2 linked regions of the Homo sapiens genome follow. The protein of the gene in region 2 purifies or fractionates together with the protein of the main gene of each other region. This does not show direct contact. Each region holds a gene or a part of one and is shown on either strand. Other genes may lie near its edges.

Region 1 (7,027 bases), on a different chromosome or scaffold from region 2:
CAGAGCGAGACTCTGTCTCAAGAAAAAAAAAAAAAAGTTCTGAAATCACTATAGCTCTTTAGGGTGTCATCTCTGATTTGGGAGGAAGCAGGAAATTCTCCAGGGTCCTTGTCCTTAGTGAGCACTGAGCAGTGATGGCACCAAAAGCTAGCAGAGCCCAGCTTCTTCTCTGGATCAGCCAGTGCTATGCCTCAGGGCAAAAGCCAGCCAAGTACAGACTTACTTTTCTCGGCTCCAGTCTTTCCAGATCTCAGCCCAGTAACTCCATACTGCCTTGGCCATTTGATGCTTTTAGGAAGTTTTTGGGTTTTTTTAGCCAGCTTTTTAAATTGTCTTCATCAAGAAGGTTTGTCTAGATTACTTATTCTGCCAATACTGTTCCATATGTTTTTTATTTTTTTGAGATAGAGTTTCATTCTTGTCGCCCAGGCTGGAGTGCAATGGTGTGATCTCAGCTCACTGCAACCTCTGCCCCGCGGGTTCAAGCGATTCTCCTGCCTCAGCCTCCTGAGTAGCTGGGATTACAGGTGCCTGCCACCACGATCAGCTAGTTTTTGTATTTTTAGTAGAGATGGGGTTTCACCATATTGGCTAGGCTGGTCTCAAACTCCTGACCTCAAGTGATCCGGCCGCCTTGCCTCCCAAAGTGCTGGGATTATAGGCATAAGCCACCGCGCCCAGCCCATATGTTTTATATTTAGCTGGTTATTTTTTTTTTGTTGTATTTTTTAGATCCCTGGGTTCAGAGAGAGATATGTGGAGTTGAGGAAGAGAGCTGAAAAGTATAAAGTTTTAGACATATTTAGCCTTGCAAATGGAGACAATAGCATAAATAAGTTAAATATGATATCTCTAACTCATGCTTTGTTTTTTGACTTTGTCTTTCATTTTATAAGAACAAGTACGTAAATGGAAAAACTGACAGATTCATTTTGACCAATCACTTACTGAAGGCATATGTGAAACATTAATGAAGCAATTTACTAATGAGAAAATTCAGATAATGATTAATTTTGGGGGATTCAGGAGTATCTATAAGGAGGATGTTAAAAATGTGTTCCTCTGAACTAAAATCAAATAAAAAGGACGAAATTTACAAGTGTGTGTATTTAACACTAATTTCAGTTGTGTAACCTTAGGCAGTCCTCGTTGGCAGACCAACTTTTGTTTAACTAGATCATAAACTTAATGTGTGATGCAGGGGACTGGTTATATGCCCTGCCCCTACACTCCAACTCCCTTCCCCTCCCAGTTTTCACCTCAAGAGTGGCCTTATACCTGCTCCGTACACAGTTGGAAGTAAAACTGCTTAGGGCTAAGTGTTATCTCTAAGTGACCATGGAAGAATTATGGACATTTTTTTACCTCCTGGAAATCATATACAAACTGCCACTTTCTTTTCATGGCATCTTTTCCCCCTACATTACTTAACGTTCCCTTAGATTTCCTCCCAAAATCTGTGCAGTCTTGTAAACAACATCCTTTGTAATTTTCTTCTGATTCTTATCTAGTTATCTCAAATTACTCTCCATCTGCTAATTTTGTCCATGAGTCAAAACAAATCACCTAATCATGACGCTTAAGTAAAGCTACATTTACTAAATATCTATGGTTTGACAAGCATTGTTGTGTTTGTTTATGGTAAACCTGTCAAGGAGTAAAACAGCTGAGCATTTTGTAGTGAAATTAGGTGTGGTAGAAAATAGTATCACAATTCATACTTGGGTGCTGCTCAGGAGACACTTGAGTTTAATGAGCTCCTGATATGATCTGCCTTGGGACTGTTGATGCTTTTGTTGGATTACGTGTGTGCATGTCTTAGAGCTACAAAATAATACCTTGAAAAATTGCCAACTTCATTCAAAGCTCTTTGCAATGCTAAGAGTTTCCCTCAGAATTTCTCTACAAGTTCTTGTTTACCTCATTATTTAAAGCACTTTATTTTGTTGTAGGTTTTGGGGAGTTAGGTTGAGCAAATATCTAACATTCTAATGGAAAAATATTTTTTAAGTTCCATATGAATGTCCTAAAAGTGGCTTTCACAGCACAAATGTTCTATGACCTTCTATGATAGCAGTCGTTCATCACACTGACTGATGTTTAGTTGATTAATTTTCTCATAGTCACAACAGAAGTTGATTTTAATATGACTTGCATGAAAAATGATAAATTTTTACTGCTTTTTTTGTGAAGCTATAATATTGGGCATCTGTAATGTCTTCAGTTTTCAGAATCAAGCCATATTCTGATCTTTTATATCTACTAATGACACCCAAATTTAGAACTGTGTGCTCTGGCTATGTAGAAAAGACTGATTGAAAAAGAAAAGAAAAGACTGCTTTCCTGTGTCTCTGTAGCTCCTCAACTTTTTTTTTAATGTGCTCCTCTTTAAAATTTTTTCTTTCAGGTTGTACCTACAACAGATCATATAGATACAGAAAAATTGAAAGCCAGAGAACAGATTAAGTTTTTTGAAGAAGTTCTCCTTTTTGAGGATGAACTTCATGATCATGGAGTTTCAAGCCTGAGTGTGAAGATTGTGAGTATTATTTTTATTTAAAATTAATATTTTTCTTGCATTCTTAACATCAGACAAAAATATGACTCACTTTGAATAACACTGAGCCTGGCCGGGCGCGGTGGCTCACGCCTGTAATCCCAGCACTTTGAGAGGCTGAGGCGGGCTGGATCGCCAGGTCAGGAGACCGAGACCATCCTGGCTAACACAGTGAAACCCCGTCTCTACTAAAAACACAAAAAGTTAGCTGGGCATGGTGGCGGGCGCCTGTAGTCCCAGCTACTCGGGAGGCTGAGGCAGGAGAGTAGCGTGAACCCAAGAGGCGGAGCTTGCAGTGAGCCAGGATCACGCCACTGCACTCCAGCCTGGGCGACAGAGCAAAAAAAAAAAAAAAAAAAAAAGAATAACACTGAGCTTTAACATGATGTCATGTACAATTTCACTTGAATCTAGAGTGTATCTTATTGAATATCCATTATAAAATTCACAAAATATTTGTGTATTCTTAAGGCTTTATTTTAGCAAAGCATTTTTAATAGACCTGCCTGGCCACCTTGTAGTTTATTTGTTTATTATTTAACTCTAATGAAGACTGTGGCTTAATTTTCACATTTTGGATTAAAAATGATGTTGATAGGATCTGCAGACGGCAAGGTGGATGTCATTTTTTAAAATGATCCATGTGTTATGATTTCAGTGCATCATTCAACTACCACTTCAATTTTCAGCCTGGTGGCGGGCACCTGTAGTCCCAGCTACTCGGGAGGCTGAGGCAGGAGAAGCGTGAACCCGGGAGGCGGAGCTTGCAGTGAGCTGAGATCGCACCACTGCACTCCAGCCCTCCAGCCTGGGCGACAGAGCAAGACTCCGTCTCAAAAAAAAAAAATAAAATAAAATAAAAGAAGTAGAAAACACACATAACAAGTATGGTTATTCATATTTCTTTACCACTGCATTATAATTGGGTCTCTAATACTTTCCAGAAATAACTCAACTGAAACTTTTTACTAAATGCCTCATTCTTTAAGACCCAAAGACCCAGCTAAAATACCACCTTTTCTACAAGGCCCTTCACAACTCCGTTACACAGAGTTAAATATCTCTTTTCTATACTCCTTTTTAAAAACCTCTCAATTAGGCCGGGCGCGGTGGCCCATGCCTGTAATCCCAGCACTTTGGGAGGCCGAGGCGGGCGGATCACGAGGTCAGGAGATCGAGACCATGGTGAAACCCCGTCTCTACTAAAAATACAAAAAATTAGCTGGGCGCAGTGGCGGGCGCCTGTAGTCCCAGCTACCCGGGAGGCTGAGGCAGGAGAATGGCGTGAACCCGGAAGGCAGAGCTTGCAGTGAGCCGAGATCGTGCCACTGCACTCCAGCCTGGGCAACAAGCGAGACTCCGTCTCAAAACAAACAAACAAACAAACAAAACAAACAAAAAACCTCTCAATTATAGCATTTGTCATGAGATCTGTCAAAGACAGAGACCCTAACATCAAACATTGTTCTTGGGGCATAATGATTGTGGATGCTGTGATTTAAAGAATGAAAATAATACAAAAGCAGCAACAGATTTGTTTTAAAGTCAAATTTTAGCTACTTGGGAGGCAGAAGCAGGAGGATTGCTTGAGCCCAGGAGGTCAAGGCTACAGTGAGCTATGATGGTGCCACTGCACCCCAGCTTGGGAGACAAAATAATTTTATTTTTAGATAAATAAAAAATTTTATTTTTCTTATCTAAAAATAAAATTAGTTTTTTCGGTGGAATCAAAGGATTTTGAAATTGTAGTGAATTTTTAGAGAATCATTTTTTGTAGCCTCCATATTTTATAGATAAGGCCTAAAAAGATAGCTTAAGGTCATGAAACTAATTGCAAAGTTTTCTTTGTATCATCTAATATATATCATTATTCTAGCATTAGATAGTTGTTTTCATAGGCTTTACTTCTTTGCTCACTTATAACTCTAAATTCACTTTTTTTTGTTTAGATTTATTCTCTCTTCAGTTCACCTAGTCTTGTATCTTTCCACTTGTCTACCACCTGTTGAATTGACTATGCTAAATGTTCATTATGAGTTTGCATACCTGGGTGTGCATTTGTATCCAAGGGGGTATATATATCATGTCTATAAGTGGGTCGGTATTTGGAAAGCACATGTGGTTTTGTGGATGGAGTTGCTTGAAAGGATATGTGTATAAATATGTGTGTACAAGAATACATAGTAAGTCTTAAACTGAAGAGCATTTTTTTAACCAACTACTTTAAGCTGAAGTATTAGTTCATAGATATTACTATCCTGTAGTGAAATTTGTAGATGATTTAATCCACCTACTTTGCAGCAATCAACATATTTTAACTATAAAATTAAAGGAAATTGGTTTAGAATAAAATATATTTTAATACTTAAATGCATAATATGACTGCACCAAAGACATAATGAAGCAGTCAGGTACTTATATTTGCATATTGAGTCACCGTAAATGTGACAGCAAAAAATGTAGGCTGACAGAGATGTAAGGTATCAATCAGTGACTCTTAACACAATTTTCCAAAATGATGAACAACTCTTAGTGAAGTTCTAAATAAGAAAAAGTATAATCTTTCCTTGATTTGGAAAATAGTTGACTTCCTGGATAATTGAGTGATTTTTTTTTTATTATCTATGTAAAATGGAAATAGTTTCTAAAGTCAGATCATTATAAGTAGGCTTTTTCACCTCTGTGAATGCCTGGTAAGATACTGCAAGTTTTGTGGAATGCAGGACTGGACTTTGTTGTATAGGATTGTCCTGTGCATCCCAGATCTGTCGTTCTGGTCCTTATTCACTAACTGTTGATATTGGTTGCTTATTGATGTGACAAGAAAAAGTACTCTCACAAATTCCCAAACGTCCCCTAGGAAAGAACTACTGCCCTAAAATATGCTATTGTATTGGCACTAGAGTTCTGGTCTCCTAATTCCTACTCTCTCCACTGTGCCATGCTAAAATGATATTTCAGTTTACTGCCTGTGTTGTGTCCAGTGTGACTGTTGGTAACTAATTTTGAAATTTGAAGAAATGTTGCAAGTCAGTTTTTCCATAAATTACACATATCACTGTGTAGTAATGTCAAATAATAATGATGTGCTTCTCAATTTGTTGTGACATCAAGTTGTCATAAGTCAGGTTATTTCTACAGCTTTCCTTTACTAAAAGTCTTTTTTTTAAGTCTGTTGCTGATAACCCCATCAGAATACACTTTGGCTCAGAGCCTTTTCTCCAGCAAAGGTATTAATACCTTCTAGCTTCAGTTTTATCCGGAAAATGGTTAATGAGCACCTGCTGTGTGCTAGGTACTTTTCTAAGCAATAGAGATGTGGTGATGAACAAAGCAGATATTTCCACCACCATGGAGCCTACAGTCAAGTGGAAACATAAATGAAGATAGTTACAAATCCGTTAATTCGTAATGGAGTGCTATGAGAGAGAATACCAAGATAAATCTATTGTGGTATGGAATGGTAAGAAAGGCCCCTCTGTGGAAGTGACATGTGTACTGAAATCTGAAGGACAAGTGAACATTAGCCGGGAGAATACTCCAGGTAAGGGAAGAGGGTGTGTAATGGTCCCAAGGCAGAAAAGAATTTGGCCTGTGGCTGGTGACTCTCCAGGCAGTTAAGTCACTGTCATTACTGGGTTATCCTGTTATTTCTTCTTTCATCATTAATGTAGCCCTGTGCTTATATGTAAGATTATAGGCAGTTCCCTGAATATATGTTATTATTTCATGTCTCAGTACTTTTTGTACATGCAGGTCCCCTTTCTGAAATTCTCCTTCCCATCTCTAGCTGTTCTTTCTGTGGTCAGCTCAAGCCTTGTCTTATCTGATGTTCTTCAGCAGACTTAGGTACTTCTTTCTCAAATGCTTATTGAGCCTTGTGCATACCCATTATAGCAGCTACCACATCTGTTTGACCTTTCCCTGGCTGATAACCTTTTTGAGCATTGGGATTCTATTTTTTCATTTATATAAATCCAAGACTTACTATAGTAAGAACTTGGTGTTAGTAGACAATAGGTATTTATTCAGCAAATGGCCAAGCATATTCATTTTAATTAATTAATTAATTTTGGGACAGGGTCTTGCTCTGTTGCCCAGGCTGGAGTGCAGTGTTACAATCATGGCTCACTGCAGCCTATCTCCCAGGCCCAAGCCATCCTCCCAGCTTAGCCTTCCACGTAGCTAGGACTACAGGCTTGTGCCACCGTGCTTTGCTAATTTTTTGTATTTTTTGTAGAGATGGGGTCTGACTCTGTTGCCCAGGCTGGTCTTGAACTCCTGGGCTCAAGTGATCTTTCCACCTCAACCTTCCAAACTGCTGTGATTATAGGTGTGAGCCACCATGCCAGCTAAACATATTCATTTTAAAGACCCAAATACCTCACATTCCATTCAACCGCTCTCTCCCCGCCACCAGGACCCACCTTCATACTTTCTCCACTGATTCTGCCTATCATTAGTAGTTAT
Region 2 (7,027 bases):
AAAACTGACTTTTGACATAATTTTTATTGTTTTTTGCATAGGAATGACATATTTTAAAATCAGGAAAAAAAACTGAGATAAAAACACCATAATATTAGGTTTTCTAGAGAAAAGAAAAAGCTTACAACTAAGCCCCCAAATGTGCGGGGAGGCCAGGGGTCTCTTCTCAAAGGGGCCCTTCCACCTAGGAAATGTCTGCCACAGAGCCAGCAGCCCTGGAGATCAGCTCACCCGACATGCCGGGGGACAGCACCATGAAGAAAGAGACAGCTAAGACAAAGCACAGTTCTGACATTTTTATTCACTGATCATAAATATAGTCTCATGAGCATTAAGGTGATCATGAATGATGTACTAGCACCTGGAACATGACCATCATGGAGCACTCACTGATTCCCCATCACTGGCCAAAGAAGTCGGGGCATCTTCCTTTCACCAAGTGTTCAACTTTGGAGGGACCCTCCTTCTGGTGCAGCAATTTTATTCTTGGCTTGTTCTCAACAATTAAAAAATCATAAAAGACTGAGTGTTTGCAATAAAATATCAAAGAGGATAAGAAGATTTTCTGTTCTTCTTAAAGTCTAAAGTAAAAAGGGGAGGTAGGGAAGAAGGAAAGGAAAGGGGAAAGATGTCAGGGATCTGCCACGTTTCTTCCTTCCTCCAGAGCATTTTACAAAAACAAAACCGGGGAGGTATTTATTAATGCTGTTTGGAGATGGGTTGCGTCTCTCTGATGAGCCACTCGAGAGCTTCCTGGCGGCCCTGTTTCTGCAATTCCTTCCCAATCACATCCCTGCAGGTCAGGTGGTAATTGTTGAGCCAGTCGCACTGCAGGGAAGAGAAGGACAGACACGGTATTCACCACTACATCTTTAACAACTGGCTACACAGGTCAACAGCAAAGGCCCCCATGTGCTAAGATCACAAGCTGAGAGAAAAGGTGTGCAACACCCTTTCTCCTTACTCACAGGTAAGTATTTTCCTTGTGTTCTGTTTCCCCGGAAATACATAGGACCAGACTTCATGGCTTCTGGTGAAAAGGCTCCCAGAACAGTTTACTATTATAGACAGCAGTCTCTAAGCCAGTAGCTCCTGCTCCCACCTGTGTGGCTTCATTCCCTTAAACCTGAGCCATCCTGGGAGGTGGTAAGTGGGGGAATAGCCCCGGACTCTGTGAGAACTCCTGCTGAGAGAGACACTCGAAGCTGTCCTGCCAACACACTGGGCTACATATCCTATATCCACTGAAAAAGCTGAATAAAAAACTAGGATCAGCCAAGCCCATGGGTGTCTTTTGAGTGTAGCTGCCTAGATGAACCCAAAACCTGCGGTGGTTAAAGACTGTGGTGCAGCAGAATGGCGCTGGGAGTAAACTTAGTTTTCAGACTCTCAACTCAACATGCCACAAGAGCAGGAGACAAAAAAGAGAGTGAAAGGAAGGACCTGCTGGCAGGACTTGGTGCCTGGGCAGGGGCTGATCCACTAGACATGATGGCAAAAGCTCTGAGGCAGGAAAAAGGGTGAACTCTCCTCCTTGGTTGTATACGGGAAAAGGTGAAGTCTGGAGTGAAGCAGGTTTTACCAAGAGGACAACAAGCCACTCTCATCACTGTCTATGGGGGTAGCTGTCTGGAAGCTGATGAGACTGATAGTGCCATGGCTGTGCTTGTCATAAATGAGTCAAAGGCCATTTTGGAGGGCAGCGATGTTACAGAAGTACTGCTTTCAGGGACTACAATCCAGCCAGGTACCAAAGCCCAGCTGGGGTCAGGATGGGCACACAAACCCATTAATTACAAGGGACTGAGGGCAGACAGATAGGGTGGTGTTACCAACTGGCTGTGACCCAGCCAGGGTTCCAATCCCTACTGAGAAGAGCCTAGTAGCCCCTTCTGGGAGTCAGGGAAGTGATGGGGGCAGGGGAGGATGTCAAAAGCAGGCAAACTGCTATGTGTCCACAGCAAGGCCAGCAGGGCTACAAAGCAGCCTACTGTCCAAAGCAGCTCAACAGTAAGGCAACGGCAGCATCCTGGTGTAAGCCTGGGGCCACAGCCAAACGCCCATGGCCCTTTTGGTTGGAAGTAGGGAGGGAAAAGTGGGAGTGTGGACAGCCTCGGTGGAGCCTGAGGAGCAGCACAAGGCCCTGACAGTCTGCAGCTGGCCATATTCATATCTGACCAAGGTCCTTTGCTGCCATCTGGTGATAAGTGATGACGATGCAGACCCAAACCAAAAACTCCCTAAAGTGACTCCAAAATAAAGGCTAAATAGTAAAGGGCAAATGACCAGATATTTTAAAAGCCAGATATTTTAAGAAGACATTATCTGCCCTACAAAGAGTAACTGGCCGAAAGAATAGTTCAATCATGTGGGCATGCAAGGTGCAGCAATGAAACACTGGGTAACACAGATCCCTGGTCTATGTCCAATGTCACGGGAGTAGACTGATTCTCCTTCGAGGAAAAATGGCCTGGCTTAAACTTCCTCATATACTACTTCCCTGGATAAAGGGGAATGTCATATGGGAGAAATGCCTCCTGATGGGTACACTTTATGTGGACAGGAAGGACTGCATGACCTAGAATTACTTGGCAGGAATCCATAGCCTTGGACTTCCAAGAGTGCGAAATGACTTATTACTGGAAAGCCCCTTGCTAAGTCCCTGGAAGCTGTGCCCAAGGGCCATTACAAGAGACACTGGTTCCTATGGGGCAGAGGGATTCTAAGCAGGGTGGGTCCCATGCCCACCTATGTGTTTTCATTTCCTCTCAGCTAAGGCAACACTTACAGGGGCTGGACAAGAGCCCCTGGACACTGGAAGGACTCTTCCTGCTGAAGAGACACACCAGACATTGTGCTGATAGGCTGAGTTTCCTTTTCCATATCCATCTACAAGCTGCATAACCCACCCGGTATCAGCAAGGCCCATGTGGGTCCTGTGAGTGGGAATGTTTAGCTGAACCAAGGGCACGGATGGTTAAGCAGAGGCGCTCAAGCACAGAGGAAAGCTAAGCAGGAAGTGGATGGACTTTCTCATCACCCACCTGTGAACTGGAACAGGCAGAAGAGGCTTCTAGCTGGGAGAATCCCATTCCACAGCTCCTGTGGAAGGGAAGGTCCTTAACCCCCAAAGACCCTTTCCTTTACAGTGTCAAGAACGAGGCCCAAGTGGGCGCCAGTGAGGAAATGTTCCTGCCTTGAGAGGCACTCAAAGGCCATTGGCTGCCTCAGATAACAAAATATTCTTATTCCGAGAGTAACCCACCGTGCTTACCCTGCCTTCGGCTCCCACCAGTCATTTGCTTTTCATTGGAACTTCTGACCCCTGCCTTGCTCTGGAATTTGTGTCCTCCTGGCTTCCAGCTTCCTGGTTTGGGAACTGTTTTGTCTGTCTAGTGCTAACAGTTCCTACCCCATTTCTGACCCTTGTTTCTGCTCTGACCTTGAACATCTGTGTGATTCTTCAGGCCTTTCTCATGTCCCCAGGACTGCCATCTGACCTGGCCTTACCAGTCCAGGGTCTGAAGGAGTTAAGACCCATAACCCTCTGAGCTGGGCAAGTAAGCACTGTTGTGCCCCAGGCTTTGTGAAGGGTTTCACTGCCCCAGAGTGACCACAGTAGTAACCGAGAAGGGCTGGTACTATCTTTCTCCTTGTCTGTGTGAAAACAGGACATACGATAATAGATTTTGCTTTCCATTTCCTTAATGTTTCATGTAACACAAGAAAACAATCTGGTATGTACAGTGGCCAAGAGGCCCCACCATCCATCTGGCTTTTTGTAGGGACACACATAGGCTCATATTTGCTAAACACGCCTCACTGCAGCTATGGAGGAATAGTACAGCCAAACAATGGCATACGAGTTCCACCCACAAACCCTACAGCCCCAGAATGGCTGCGGGAAACAGGACTATCTCCACCTGGAGGCCCAACAAATACAGGAAAAGCTCAGGAGTCCTCAGAAAACCTAGGGCTTTCAGACTCAACTGGCCTAGACCTCTAAATTTAAAAATTACAAAGTGAGACTGGATTAGAGAATTTAGGATTTAGAGGATGGATTAGAACTATTTAAGGTAGTCTCCACCTCCCCTAGTAACATGCCTGCCCACCAAGACTTCCCCATTACCTCTTTGTCTGTAAGAGAATCCACATCTATCATTTTGGTCTGAATTGGAACCAATGTTAGAGGTTCAAAGGTCAGGCTTCCCCGGTTATTAAAATTATACTGCGGGAGAAAGAAGAAAACAGATGCTTTTACTCCTCTTTACTATGCTGAAGCACCATGAGGTCATTCCACCAGCATGCCATCCCTCAGAGCCAGGGGTAACTGGGAGCCAAGAAGTGGTGAGCTGGTCACCACTTTTCACAGACACACAAGGAACCTGATGCCATTTTCCAAGAGCTCCTCCACTGGGCAAACAATGGCCTGTGCCATCAGGAAAGGCCAAACAAAGGGTGCTGAGGGGCTCCCAGCAACAGGTCCCAAGGCTAATGTCTACTGTGATAGGAAACAGGGGCAGGATATGGGGGTATCTGGGCTTAGGGGCATCTCTGGTTTTGGTTCTCCAGGATGCAGGGGTGTAAGTCCTCAAAATCATTTTTATAACAGTCAACTGTGTGGTCTGCCTTGACCCAGCCAGGCCCATCAGGCGACAACACATCTATCCACTGGAGCACACAAGAACATGTCGGGTTTCTGTTCATGGCAGCTTTTGGGAATAAGATGGGAGGTCACTTCCAAGAATAGTGACTTCCATGCCAAAGCAGAGAGCAGATCCCCGCAGTTAACCTCCTTGTAGACACAGGAAGCTACTTCCCTCCAATTGTTCAATTCCACCAATGGAGGAGGCACAAACAGGTCTTTTAGGTAAAGCCTAGAGCCTAAAACCCTGCAACCTTGGTAACACTGATGGGGGAAGAGGGTGAAACACCTGTCTTGTATTGCCTTTGAGGCTGACCCATGGATAACTCAGGGTTCCTCAACTTTACCTAATAAAAGTCACCTGGGGAGTGTGACAAAATTACAGCTTCCAGGCCCCCCACCCTGGAAATTCTAGGGTCTGGGAGGGGCCCTGGAAATTAGCGCCTTGAATAGGCACCCCTAGCAGAAGAGACAACAGGCCGCCTATAGTAAACTCAGAGCCCCAAATCATGTGAAGCAAGCATCAGCCTGAGGGTCTGTGAATCCCAGTTCTAGATCCCAGTTCATTAAGGATTTTCTTTCTGGCTTTGCAGGGAAGGAGTGTGGTTTCCAGGAAAGTCCCTGATATCTGGAGAAGAAGGCTCCATGTTGGCCCCAGAATGGCATACTCTTGGCTCCAAAGACATTAAGTCTTCATCTTCCCACACTAAGAAACAGGAAAATTTTTAAGCTTTGCGCAGTGGCAGTATTGTAGCCAATGAGGTCTATCCGAGGCGTGATTATTGCTAATAGAAACAGGAAAATTTTTTTAATAAATCCTCACCTTGGTCTTCACAGGAACCACAAGGACAACATTCTCAATGCGAATTCCAAAAGCCCCATCTTCATAGTACCCGGGCTCTAAAACAAACCAAATCCCAAAAATGAGAAGCAGCCCACGATGAAGATGTCTACAGAGAGAAACTTTCACTCCTTGGATGACTGCCCTACTCCAAAGGAGAAGAAACGGGTGAAGAGCCCACTCTATCTGGTGTAAGAGCCTAGAGATGCCACCTTCTCTCATATGGCCACTTTTTTATAGGCACTTGAGGTGCAGAAAGCTAGACTCTGAAGTCCCTGCACACTGGCTACAGGGTAAGGAGTAAAGTAACAGTGGATCCACTAAATAAATCATGGTTCACATCCGTAAGACACAATAATGAAGGCATTAAAATATATTTACAAAGACTTGGCAATGACCTGAGAAAAGGCAATGTATCAAGTAAGAAAGCAGAACATAAGACAAGATGCCCAGTAAGATCTCAATGATTTAAAAAAAAAATGCTATCTACATACCTGAAAGACCAAAAGCTAATACAGTAAAACACTAAGTCATGTTTCCCCTGAGTGGTTAGATTGCAAATGATTTTCATTTTCTTTTTACACAGTTCCCATCTCATTTTTTCTAAAATGAACATGTATCAGTTCTATAATCAGAAAAGTTTGTTGGAAGGGAAAAGTATTGCCAATTTACTTTAAACTAATTAAAAAATACAAAACAACGAATAGCTTTCAAAAAGGCTCAAGGATCCACGCATGCCCTCTATGTGAGGGACACTTACCATCAGTGACAATCATGCCTGCCTCCAAGGGCTCATCAGAGAATGTTTTGTAACTGATGCCGCAAGGACCCTCATGGACATTCAAAAAAGACCCAACACCATGTCCAGTCCCGTGCAAGTAATCTAGGCCTGAATCCCATAAAGCTGAACGGGCAAAGGAGTCAAGAAGGTGACCTGAAAGACATAAAGAGCCACTTAATTGTATTTGTACAGCGCTTTAGAGATTAAATTTATTATGTGTGGCTCCAGAACGTGAAACAGAAACCAATAGGTAAGTTACTGGAGGGTTCAGATTTCAGCACAGCACAAGGAAGAACTTTCTAACAATCAGAGCTCCTGAGAAACCATCAGAGCTCAGTCTGAAGCTAGGCGATCATCCATTCAGGATGCTGGTGAGCGGGGATAGACACCTACAGCACACAGAGGCCGTATCAGACATGGACGTTCCCTTGCCAGCTCTGCGACCCTAAGGTTTCAGAATTACAAAGATGAGACTCTAACCAGACTGCAAGCAGACAGGCAGGCATGACAGATGAGGAAACTGAGGCCTAGGGAGATGAGTACATGTCTAATCTACCCAAAAGCAAGGCAGCCCAGGTCTTGTCAATGCCCAGTCCAATGCTCCACCCACCAGGCCTCAAGCAAAGTAGTACATAGCTGAAGTCAGGGTCCCAGTAAAATAAATCCTAAGAATCCCGAAAGGAAGCACTGGCCCAGTACTAAAGGGCAGACAGGAGGCTGCACCAACTTCCACTCAGGCCCTGTGACCTTCATATCTGGT

The links.
Region 1: the proteins of XPNPEP1 (region 2) and TIPRL fractionate together in Homo sapiens (co-fractionation; 2 studies listed by BioGRID). This does not show direct contact.

What each region holds. Positions count from the first base shown.
Region 1 is NC_000001.11:168,188,962-168,195,988, forward strand, and holds part of TIPRL (TIP41-like protein), read left to right. Parts: intron 1-2,407; coding exon 2,408-2,539; intron 2,540-3,246; coding exon of another isoform or gene 3,247-3,267; exon of another isoform or gene 3,268-3,434; intron 3,435-7,027. UniProt on the Homo sapiens protein: May be a allosteric regulator of serine/threonine-protein phosphatase 2A (PP2A). Isoform 1 inhibits catalytic activity of the PP2A(D) core complex in vitro. The PP2A(C):TIPRL complex does not show phosphatase activity.
Region 2 is NC_000010.11:109,864,485-109,871,511, forward strand, and holds the end of XPNPEP1 (xaa-Pro aminopeptidase 1), read right to left. Parts: intron 6,421-7,027; coding exon 6,247-6,420; intron 5,546-6,246; coding exon 5,469-5,545; intron 4,229-5,468; coding exon 4,130-4,228; intron 3,103-4,129; coding exon of another isoform or gene 3,045-3,102; intron 829-3,044; coding exon 700-828; coding exon of another isoform or gene 671-699; 3' UTR 282-670; downstream 1-281. UniProt on the Homo sapiens protein: Metalloaminopeptidase that catalyzes the removal of a penultimate prolyl residue from the N-termini of peptides, such as Arg-Pro-Pro. Contributes to the degradation of bradykinin.